3 linked regions of the Homo sapiens genome follow. The gene in region 3 interacts genetically with the main gene of each other region. Each region holds a gene or a part of one and is shown on either strand. Other genes may lie near its edges. The genes, in order: NSMCE1, LIAS and UBA2.

Region 1 (3,652 bases), on a different chromosome or scaffold from region 3:
GTGAGCCAAGATCACGCCATTGCACTCCAGCCTGAGCAACAGAGTGAGACTTCATCTCAAAAAAAAAAAAAAAAAATCACATGGAACCAAAACAGAGCCTGAATAGCGAAAGCAATCCTAAGCAAAAAGAACAAAGCTGGAGGCATCACGTTACCCGACTTCAAACTACACTACAGGGCTAAACAGCATGGTGCTGGTACAGAAACAGGCACATACACCAATGGAACAGAATAGAGAGCCCAAAATTAAGGCCATACACCTATGACCACCTGATCCTTGACAAAGATGACAAAAAGAAGCAATGGGAAAAAGACTCCCTATTCAATAAATGGTGCTAGTATAAGTGGCTAGCCATATGTGAAGACTGAGGCTGGACCCCTTCCTTACAGCACATACAGGAATCAATTCAAGATGGATTAAAGACTTAAATGTAAGACCTAAAACTATAAAATCCCTGGAAGACAACCTAGGCAATACCATCCTGGACACAGGAACGGGCAAAGATCTCACGACAAAGACACCAAAAGCAATCACAATGAAAGCAGAAATTGACAAATGAGATCTAATTAAACTTAAGAGCTTCTGCACAGCAAAAGAAACTATCAACAGAGTAAACAGACAACCTACAGAATGGGAGAAAATATTTGCAAACTATTTACGAGAGAAAATCAAACAACCCCATTAAAAACTGGGCAAAGGACATGAACCAACATTTTTCAAAAAGAAGACATACATGTGGTCAACAAGCATATGAAAAAAAAGCTCAGTATCACTGATCATTAGAGAAATGCAAATCAAAACCACAATGAGATACCATCTCACATCAGTCAGAATGGCTATTATCAAAATGTCAAAAAATAACAGATGCTGGCAAGGTTGCAGAGAAAAGGGAAACTTATATACTGTTGGAGGGAGTGTAAATTAGTTAAACCACTGTAGAAAGCAGTGTGGCAATTCCTCAAAGAGCTAAAAGCAGAACTACCATTTGACCCAGCAACCCCATTCCTGGGTATATACCAGAGGAACAGAAATATTCTACCATAAAGACACATGCACGGGAATGTTCACTGCAGCCCCATTCACAGAAGCAAAGACATGGAATCAACCTAAATGCCCATCAATGACAGACTGGATAAAGAAAATGTGGTACCTATACACCGTGGAACACTATGCAGCCATAAAGAAGAATGAGATGATGTCTTTTGCAGGAACATGGATGAAACTGGAGACTATTATCCTCTGCAAGCTAACACAGGAATAGAAAACCAAATACCACATGTTCTCACTTATAAGTGGGAGTTAAATGATGAAAACTTATGAACACAAGGAAGGAAACAACAGACACTGGGGTCTATTTGAGGATGGAGGGTGGGAGGAGGAAGAAGAGCAGAAAATATAACTATCGGGTACTGGACTTAATTCTTGGCTGATTAAAAAAGCTGTACAACAAACCCCTATGACGTGAGTTTACCTATCTAATAAACCTTCACGTGTGCTGCCAAACCTAAGTTTTTTTAAAAAAGCATATGATCATCTTAATGATGCAGAATATACAATTGATAAAATTCAACATGTACCTACACCAAAAACAAATTTGGAATCGAAGAAAACATCTTTTATCTACTAAGTGACGTCTACAAAAAACCTGCAGCAAACATCATACTGAAAAATGAAATGTTGGCAGCAATCACTTTAAAAACCAAATTGACCCAATGCAATTGAATCAATGCTATTACAGTCAGCATCCCAAGAGGCTTTGTGTATGTGTGTGTGTGATTTGACAAGATGATTCTAAAAATTTACATAGAAAACACAAAGGCAAAACAGCAAAGACATTCCTGGGAGAAAATAAAGGCAGAAGGACTTGTCCTACCAGCTATAAAGACTTCTCATATTTGCTGGGCGCGATGGCTCATGCCTGTAATCCCAGCACTTTGGGAGGCTGACGTGGGCAGATTGCTTGAGCCCAAGAGTTCAACACCAGCCTGGGCAATGTGGTGAAACCTTGTCTCTACTAAAAACAAAAATTAAAAAAAAAATCGCTGGGCATGATGGTATGCACCTGTAGTCCCAGGTACTCATGATACTGAGGTGGGAGGACTGCTTCAGCTCGGGATGTCGAGGCTACAGTGAGTCATGATTGCACCACTGCATTCCAGCCAGGATGACAGAGTAAGATCCTGTCTAAAAACAAACCAAAACAAAAAAAGCACTTCTTATAAAGCTAGAGTAACGAGTACAGTGTGGTAATGGTACAGAGATAGACAAATAAGACCAATCAATGGAACAGAACAGAGAACTCAGAAACGGAAAGGTATACATATATGGATACTTGATGGCGGATGAAAGCAAACTTTCCAATAAAAGGTGCCAGGAAAACTTGTTATCCATATGTAAAAAAATGAATAAAATTTGATTCTTACCTCATACTATATACAAACATCAATTCTGAAGGGATAAGGTCATAATAAGGAAAAATACTGTAAGACTTTTAGGCAATATAGAGAATATATTTATCACCTAAGGGTAGGGAAGGATTTCTTTAAGAGATATAAAAAGTACAGGTCATAAAGGAATATACTGATAAACTTGACTTTTGTTAAAATTAAGGGCCTCTATTCACCAAAAATACCAGAAAGGTGGGGGTTAGGGGATACAAACTGGAGGGCATTTAAAACAAACATAAGCTACAAAATACAAAAGATTCATATTCAGACTATATAAGGAATTCCTACAAATCAGCATGGGAAACACAACTGTAAAAGAGAAATGGGCAACAGAAATTTTACAAAAAGAGGATGCATAAATGATGAATAAATACAGAAAAAAGATGCTCAATCTCAATGTTATCAGACAAATGATTATGAAAACCACAGTGAAGGAATGTCTTAGCCACCACCAGACAGGCAAAAATTTTAAAAGAATGGCTGAGGCTGAAACTTTCATCTGCTGCTGGGAGAGTATAAATTCTTTTCCTTTTTTTTTTTTTTTTTTTTTTTTGAGACAGGGTCTCACTCTGTTGCCCAGGCTGGAATGAAGTGACACAGTCATAGCTCACTGCAGCCTTGACCTTGTGGGCTCAATCGATCCTCTGACCTCAGAACCCCCTAGCAGCTATGACTACAGGCACACACCACTATGCCCGGCTAATTTCTGTATTTTTTGTAGAGATGGGGTCTCACCTGTTGCCCCAGCTGGTCTCATACTCCTGGACTCAAGCGATCCACCCACCTCAGCCTCCCAAAGTGCTGGGATTACAGGTGTGAGCCACCACTCCAGGCTGAGTATAAATTATTGTAACCATTTCAGATAACAGTTGATATTACTAGCAAATTTGCATATCCCCCGAAATCTACTATTAGGTATATACCTTACAGAAACTTCCACATTTGCCCTAGGAGATATGTTTTTACAGAAGCACCTTGTAATAACAAAAGTCTGGCAACAGTATAAATGCCTACCAACTGAAGAACTACATTAAAACAATATAATCATCCCATAGAATTCAAATCAGCAATGAAGACAAAGTAGAGCTCCTCACATCAACACGCATACTTCTCAGAAAGATAATGTTAAGTGCAACAAGCAAGTCACACAAAATATATTTTAGGATCCTATTACATAAAATCGAAAACTCAGCAAAAGCATACAT
Region 2 (3,752 bases), on a different chromosome or scaffold from region 3:
TGAGACCAGCCTGGCCAACACGGCAAAACCCCATCTCTACTAAAAATACAAAAATTAGCTGGGCGTGATGGTGTGCGCCTGTAATCCCAGCTACTTGGGAGGCTGACGCAGGAGGATCACTTGAACCCAGGAGGCAGAGGTTGCAGTGAGTTGAGATCGCGCCACTGCACTCTAGCCTGACAGAGTGAGACTGTCTCAAAACAAAAGAAAGTTGGTAGGGTTAAATTTGCATCCCAAAATTTACTAGCATCTATAAAGACATACATTACTTTTTTTTTTTTTTTTTTTTGAGGAGTTTCACTCGTTGTCCAGGCTGGAGTGCAATGGTGTGATCTCAGCTCACTGCAACCTCTGCCTCCCAGGTTCAAGGATTCTCCTGTCTCAGCCTCCTGAGTAGCTGGGATTACAGACATGCGCCACCACACTTGGCTAATTTTTTAATTTTTAGTAGAGACAGTGTTTCACCATGTTGTTCAGGCTGGTCTCAAACTCCTGACCTCAGGTGATCCACCTGCCTCGGCCTCCCAAAACGTTGGAATTACAGGCATTAAGCCACCATGCCCGGCCCATGCATTACTTAAAAAAATTTTTTTTGAGACACGGTCTCTGTCACCCAGGCTGGAGTACAGTGATGTGATCTCAGCTCACTGCAACCTCTGCCTGTCAGGTTCAAGTGATTCTCCTGCCTCAGCCTCCCAAATAGCTGAGATTACAAGCATGTGCCACCACACCCAGCTAATTTTTTGTATTTTTGGTAGAGATGGGGGTCTGACTGTGTTGCCCAGGCTAGTCTCAAACTCCTGAGCTCAACTGATTCACCCGCCTCAGCCTCCCAAGGTGGTGGGATTACAGGCGTGAGCCACCACACCTGGCAAGGATGTGCATTACTTTTATAATACTGGCTCGTTATAAGAATTCAAAACAGAATTGGCTATCCACTTTACATATTTTACAACATGGCCACCTAAAAGTGTCCTTTTAGATATGCAGAAAAAGTAGAAAGGCAGGATTCAGTCAAAAGATGAATCTGAGTTATTAGTATTTTGGAAGGAAATTCCTTTCTCAGGCCTTTACCATCATATAATACAACCAATGTGAGAAATGAAAGGAATAGGGCATGTGGATTTAGCAAGCTACTATACAAATAAGGGTTAATATTTCTAGGTTCTATTTCCATGTCTTAGGCAGCATTATGGCCTTGGTGTTTTCAGAGGGACTAAATGTAATCAGCATAAAACTATTTTGCAGGTTCTGAAGTAGTCACACCAATGTAAAAAATCAACATTTACTTTTTTTTTGAGACAGTCTCACTCTGTTGCCCGGGCTGGAGTGCAGTGGCACGATATCGCCTCACTGCAATCTCTGCTTCACAGGCTCAAGTAATTCTCGTGCCTCAGCCTCCCAAGTAGCTGGGATTACAGGCACCTGCCAACACACCTAGCTAATTTTTTTATTTTTAGTAGCAATGGAGTTTCACCAGGTTGGCCAGGCTGTTCTCAAACTCCCGACCTCAGGTGATCTGCCCACCTCGGCCTCTCAGAGTGCTGGAATTACAGGCATGAGCCACCACATCTGGCCAACATTCACTCTTAAGCCTTTCTAAATTATTCCAATATTACAAGGACAAATGCTAATCTGATGAGTTTCAATCTACGTTGAATGAATGCTAAAGTTGAATGAAATGCTAAACTGATGAGTTTCAATCTATGTTGACTGTTTCATCACAGTAACATAAATGAAGTTTTTATTTTTCATAAATGAAATGTAATGATGTTAACAGTGGATTGGAAAATCTTCTGGAAGTTTTTGGGTTTTTTTTTCAAGACAGAGTCTGGAGAGCAGTTGTAGCGCCCAGGCTGGAGAGCAGTGGCACCACCTCAGCTCATTGCAACCTCTGCTTTCCAGGTTCAAGTGATCCTCTCACCTCAGCCTGAGTAGCTGGGACTACGGGTGCGTGCCACCACGTCTGGCTAATTTTTTGTAGAGATAAGGTCTCATCATGTTGCCCAGGCTGGTCTCGAACTCCTGGGTTCAAGTGATCCACCCGCCCTGGCCTCCCAAAATGTTGGGATTATAGGTGTGAGCCACCATGCCATGTTTTTAATGCATTTTAAAATTATGTTAAAAGAAAATTCTTACAAAGATATTTTAAGATTACATCACAGCAAGCAACTGTTTAATTGGGACAAAGAAGATACACTAAAAGCCAAATGAATTACTGTAATTAAATTTGTACAGTTTATTGACTTTTTTTTCCTTTTTATTTATTTGAGATGGAGTTTTGCTCTTGTCACCCAGGCTGGAGGGCAATGGAGCGATCTTGGCTCACTGCAACCTCCCCCTCCCAGGTTCAAGTGATTCTCCTGCCTTAGCCTCCCGAGTAGCTGGGATTACAGGCACCCACTACCACGCCTGACTAATTTTTGTGTTTTTAGTGGAGACAGGATTTCACCATGTTGGCCAGGCTGGTCTCGAACTCCTGACCTCAGGTGATCCACCCGCCTTGGCCTCCTAAAGTGCTGGGATTACAGGCGTGAGCCACTATGCCTGGCTATTGACATTTTTTTTTTTAAGCAAAGAGGTGGGGCACATCCACTGCAGTCCAGGCATTCTGGCACCACCTCTGTTATTAACTGGAATCAAATTTTAAAAATTTCTGTGATCTTGAAGGTCTTGTTGAAGTTTTAGAGGTCTTTTGTTTTTCTTTTAGCCACTAGATTTTTCAGGAAAAATTCACCTATTTAGGAAAAAGGAAAACACATTAATATCAATTTAAAGTAAATAACAGTGAGACAACTATTTCAGAATTATATTTTTGGTGTTCCCCCTTTAAAGAAGACTTTTGTATTTATTGGCACTTCTCTCTTCTCAAACCTCAATGGCAATATTTTTCTAACCTAAATATCCCCTATTATCTTTGGCCTTTCTCCCCAGCAATAATGACTAGAGTCTCCTACTATTATTCTTTCTAGTAAGCCAATATTACAAAGGGTGACCCTACTGTATATATGGGTCTGCACATTAATTCTACTTTATGTGCACTATCTATCCCTCATCACTGTCAAAGTATTGCTCTTGGCAAAATTCATTTCCAAGAGCAATTTTGCTACATTATTAGGCTGGATCTGATGTTTATAAAACAGATCTCGTTGCAGCTGAGCAGACGCATCTGATGGAATCTCTTTAGCTTATTCCCCTCTAGGGAAGCAAGAGCTCTTCATTTGTAATGGGCTTTCTCCCCACCGCCTGAGTTGTGCCTACGCAATAAGTTAGCAGCTTAGAGGGCACATTCTCTTTTTAGGCCATTAGTGTTCCATTTAGTCTATTGCTCTTACAGCATGACTCAATGCTTATTGGTAGAGTGCAGCACTAGAGGCCTGATTTTATGAGGAGTCTGATTAACTTCTCTTTGTCATCTTACATATGAGTAGAACTGTGATGAGTCTATCTACATATAATCTCTGCAAATCCCAAGGCTCATAACCCAGCCAAGTAATCCATGCTGCTCCATACCTCCTCCAAATGTCGTGGGAGTAGCACCAACTTTATCAGACCCTAATCCATCATTTTAGTCTAATGCTCATCATATACCAGAATCTGATCTTTTCCTGGTAATTTAGAAAGCATCAGAAAGTTCATAATTTACTTCCTTTTATGTTAGAAATTTTTCTTTAGCAAAAGAAAAACTCCTTTCAAAGGACATTACTCTAACCATTCTAGAAGCTGATAGTGGTTCTATCCTTCACATGTAT
Region 3 (3,652 bases):
AGCTATAAGAAAATTGTACAAAAAATGAAGCCAGTAAGATAGTTTTGAGTCTGTGTCATCCTAATTAAAGATAACTAATTTTTTTTTTCCCAAAAACTCATACTGTTTGTTTTACTTCCAGCTGCCCGAAACCATGTTAATAGAATGTGCCTGGCAGCTGATGTTCCTCTTATTGAAAGTGGAACAGCTGGGTATCTTGGACAAGTAACTACTATCAAAAAGGTAAAGAAAAGTTTTATTTTTTTAACTTCCCAAATATTTATTTGAGACCTTGGAGCAGGAGGAAATAAACTTTGTATTTATATAAAATGAACAGGTGAACATCCAAAATGTAAGGACTTTTATGCTTATATAAAACTTAAAATGCGGGGCCAGGTGCAGTGGCTCATACCTGTAATCCCAGCACTTCGGGAGGCCGAGGTGGGCGGATCACCTGAGGTCAGGAGTTTGAGACCAGCCTGGCAAGCATGGTGAAACCCCATCTCTACTAAAAATACAAAAATTAGCTGGACATGGTGGCCGGCGCCTGTAATCCCAGCTACTTGGGAGGCTGAGCCAGGCGAATCACTTGAACCTGAGAGGCAGAGGTTGCAGTAAGCTGAGATTGCACCACTGCCCTCCAGCCTGGGCTACAGATCAAGCCTCTGTCTCAAAAAACAAACTTAAAATGCTATAAACGTGCTCAAAAGACTATGGGCAAGGAAATCTTTCAGCTCTGCCATTTTGTTTCATTTGACTTTTGTATTAAAATCCTTAGAGTGGTAAGCATGATATACCAGGCATCAAAAATTTCTTTGTGTCGGCTGCGTGCAGTGGCTCATGCCTGTAATCCCAGCACTTTGGGAGGCTGAGGTAGGCAGATGACTTGAGGTCAGGAGTTCGAGACCAGCCTCTCCAATGTAGTGAAACCACGTCTCTACAAAAAATACAAAAATTAGCTGGGTGTGGAGGCGTGTACCTGTAATCCCAGCTAGTTGGGAGACTGAAGCATGAGAATTGCTTGAACCTCGGAGGTGGAGGTTACAGTGAGCCAAGATGGCACCACACTCCAGCCTGGGCAACAGAGTGAGACTCCATCTCAAAAAAAAAAAGCCAGGCGTGATGGCTCATGCCTGTAATCCCAGCACTTTTTGGGAACCCGAAGCGAGCGGATCACCTGAGGTCAGGATTTTGAGACCAGCCTGTCCAACATGGTGAAACCCTGTCTCTACTAAAAATACAAAAATCAGCGGGCGTGGTGGTGTGCACCTGTAATCCCAGCTACTTGGGAGGCTGAGGCAGGAGAATCCCTTGAACCGGGGAAGCGGAGGTTGCGGTGAGCTGAGATCACGCCATTGCACTCCAGCCTGGGCAACGAGCGAAACTCTGTCTCAAAAAAAAAAAAACCAAAAAATTCTGTTGTCTAAGAGTCTGGGCTTATAATGTGGAAGGGAACTTTGAAAACTTTTTAGGGGTGTATTTGTGAAGTACTTCAAACATTTAAATACAACTAGAGAATAATAGAACAAAATACCTGTGTGCTCATACCTCAGTTTTGTTTTGGTTTATTTATTTATTTGTTTATTTTTTTGAGACAGAATTTCGCTCTTGTTGCCCAGGCTGCAGTGCAGTGGCGCGATCTCAGCTCGCCGCAACCTCCGTCTCCCTGGTTCAAGCGATTCTCCTGCCTCAGTCTCCCGAGTAGCTGGGATTACAGGCGTGCGCCACCACGCCTGGCTAATTTTGTATTTTTAGTAGAGACGGGGTTTCTCTATGTTGGTCAGGCTGGTCTTCAACTCCTGACCTCAGGTGATCCACCTGCCTCGGCCTCCCAAAGTGCTGGGATTATAGGTGTGAGCCGCCATGCCTGGCACATATCTCAGTTTTTAAAACCTCAACACGGCTTCATTTGCTATTCAGATATTTTTTCTTTCAGTTCTTTTAAGAAGTTAAATATTGTAGTTACATTTGAAGAGTCGTTTTCCATGTTTTGAAACTATAGAAAGAGAATTATAATGTACTTAACATTTGCTGGTTGCGTCTAATTTTTTTTGGCAGCTTATTCATGTTAGAAATTGTGTCTTTGTTTCTTTTAACTGTTAAATGTTATTCTTGGAACCTTATTGAATACCATTCTACAAAAGACTGTTGTGTATGTCAGTGCGTATTAAGTTGTTGAATAAGTGGAGGCCTTCAGTATCTGTTGACAGATCAAGACGGAAGTTCTCTGTCTGCATTGCAGTATGAGTCTCATGACTGCTTGCCATGTGGCTACCCTCAAGAAAGCATATTGGAAGGCTGAGGGCATCAGAAATGGTGTTTCAGAGAAAACTCTAAATCTGCTGCAATTTATATTAAAACAGTATTTGAGAGTTTTGATTCTTGAACAATTAGCCTGGCTAATTTTTGCATTTTTGGTAGAGATGAGGTTTTGCCATGTTAGCCAGGCTGGTCTCAAACTCCTGACCTCAGGTGATCCGCCTGCCTTGGCCTCCCAAAGTGCTGGGATTACAGGTATGAGCCACCACGCCCGGCCAGACATTGCTTTTTATATCCTTGTTACTGTGATTCTGACACACCACTGTGTATTAAGACTGAAGGTGGCTGGGCATGGTGGCTTACGCCTGTAATCCCAGCACTTTGGGAGGCCAAGGCGGGCGGATCACCTGAGGTAAGGAGTTCGAGACCAGCCTGGCCAACATGGTGAAACCCCATCTCTACTAAAAATACAAAATTTAGCTGGGTGTGGTGGCACGCACCTGTAATCCCAGCTACTTGGGAGGCTGAGGCAAAAGAATCACTTGAACCCGGGAGGCAGAGGTTGTGGTGAGCCTAGATCACGCCATTGCACTCCAACCTGGGCAACGAGCGAAATTCCGTCTCAGACAAAAAGAAAAAAAGAAGAGACTGAGGTTAGGAATATCTGAGATAATGAAAGATGATTCATTTGATAGTTTTGAAAAGTTGTCTCAGGTGTCATGTACTTCTTCCAAGGCATAAATTCCTTAAATTGTAATTTTAAACTTGAATGTGTATCAATAAAATGGGCTGGGCGCAGTGGCTCACGCCTGTAATCCCAGCACTTTTGGGAAGCCAAGGCGGGCGAATCACATGAAGTCAGGAGTTCAAGACCAAGCTGGCCAACATGGAAAAACCCCGTCTCTACTAAAAATATGAAAATTAGCTGGGAGTGGTGGGAGATGCCTGTAATCCCAGCTCTTTGGGAGCCTGAGGCAGGAGAATTGCTTGAACCTGGGAGGCGGAGATTGCAGCCAAGATTATGCCACTGTACTCCAGCCAGGGTGACAGAGCAAGACTCCGTCTCCCCACCGCCAAAAAGAAACGTATATCAATAAAATGAAGAGTATTTGGTTTAGTAACACCTAAGATTTTTCTGTGTAGGGAGATATATCTTGAAATTAATCTTGTAGTTTACTTAATTTCAGGAGATTATAAGGATATGGCTGTATTCCCCAGACCCACTTAGTTTTGCTCAAAAAAAAAAAAAAAACACATATAAGAAAATGGCTGCGAATAATATTTAGATAACATTTACAACTTTGAGAAATAATTTCTTGGAAAGCTGCTGTTTGTCTTTCCAGTAGTTTTTCTGTTTAGTGTGATCAAGGTAAACTCATATTTGACACTCAGGTGTAGTAATTTTTATTTGGGC

The links.
Region 1: changes in UBA2 (region 3) and NSMCE1 together harm fitness more than expected from each alone (negative genetic interaction), as found in Homo sapiens cells (one large-scale study listed by BioGRID).
Region 2: changes in UBA2 (region 3) and LIAS together harm fitness less than expected from each alone (positive genetic interaction), as found in Homo sapiens cells (one large-scale study listed by BioGRID).

The regions. Positions count from the first base shown.
Region 1 is NC_000016.10:27,262,186-27,265,837, forward strand, and holds part of NSMCE1 (non-structural maintenance of chromosomes element 1 homolog), read right to left. Parts: intron 1-3,652. UniProt on the Homo sapiens protein: RING-type zinc finger-containing E3 ubiquitin ligase that assembles with melanoma antigen protein (MAGE) to catalyze the direct transfer of ubiquitin from E2 ubiquitin-conjugating enzyme to a specific substrate.
Region 2 is NC_000004.12:39,476,048-39,479,799, reverse strand, and holds the end of LIAS (lipoyl synthase, mitochondrial isoform 1 precursor), read right to left. Parts: intron 2,738-3,752; coding exon 2,685-2,737; 3' UTR 294-2,684; downstream 1-293. UniProt on the Homo sapiens protein: Catalyzes the radical-mediated insertion of two sulfur atoms into the C-6 and C-8 positions of the octanoyl moiety bound to the lipoyl domains of lipoate-dependent enzymes, thereby converting the octanoylated domains into lipoylated derivatives.
Region 3 is NC_000019.10:34,434,747-34,438,398, forward strand, and holds part of UBA2 (SUMO-activating enzyme subunit 2), read left to right. Parts: intron 1-121; coding exon 122-222; intron 223-3,652. UniProt on the Homo sapiens protein: The heterodimer acts as an E1 ligase for SUMO1, SUMO2, SUMO3, and probably SUMO4. It mediates ATP-dependent activation of SUMO proteins followed by formation of a thioester bond between a SUMO protein and a conserved active site cysteine residue on UBA2/SAE2.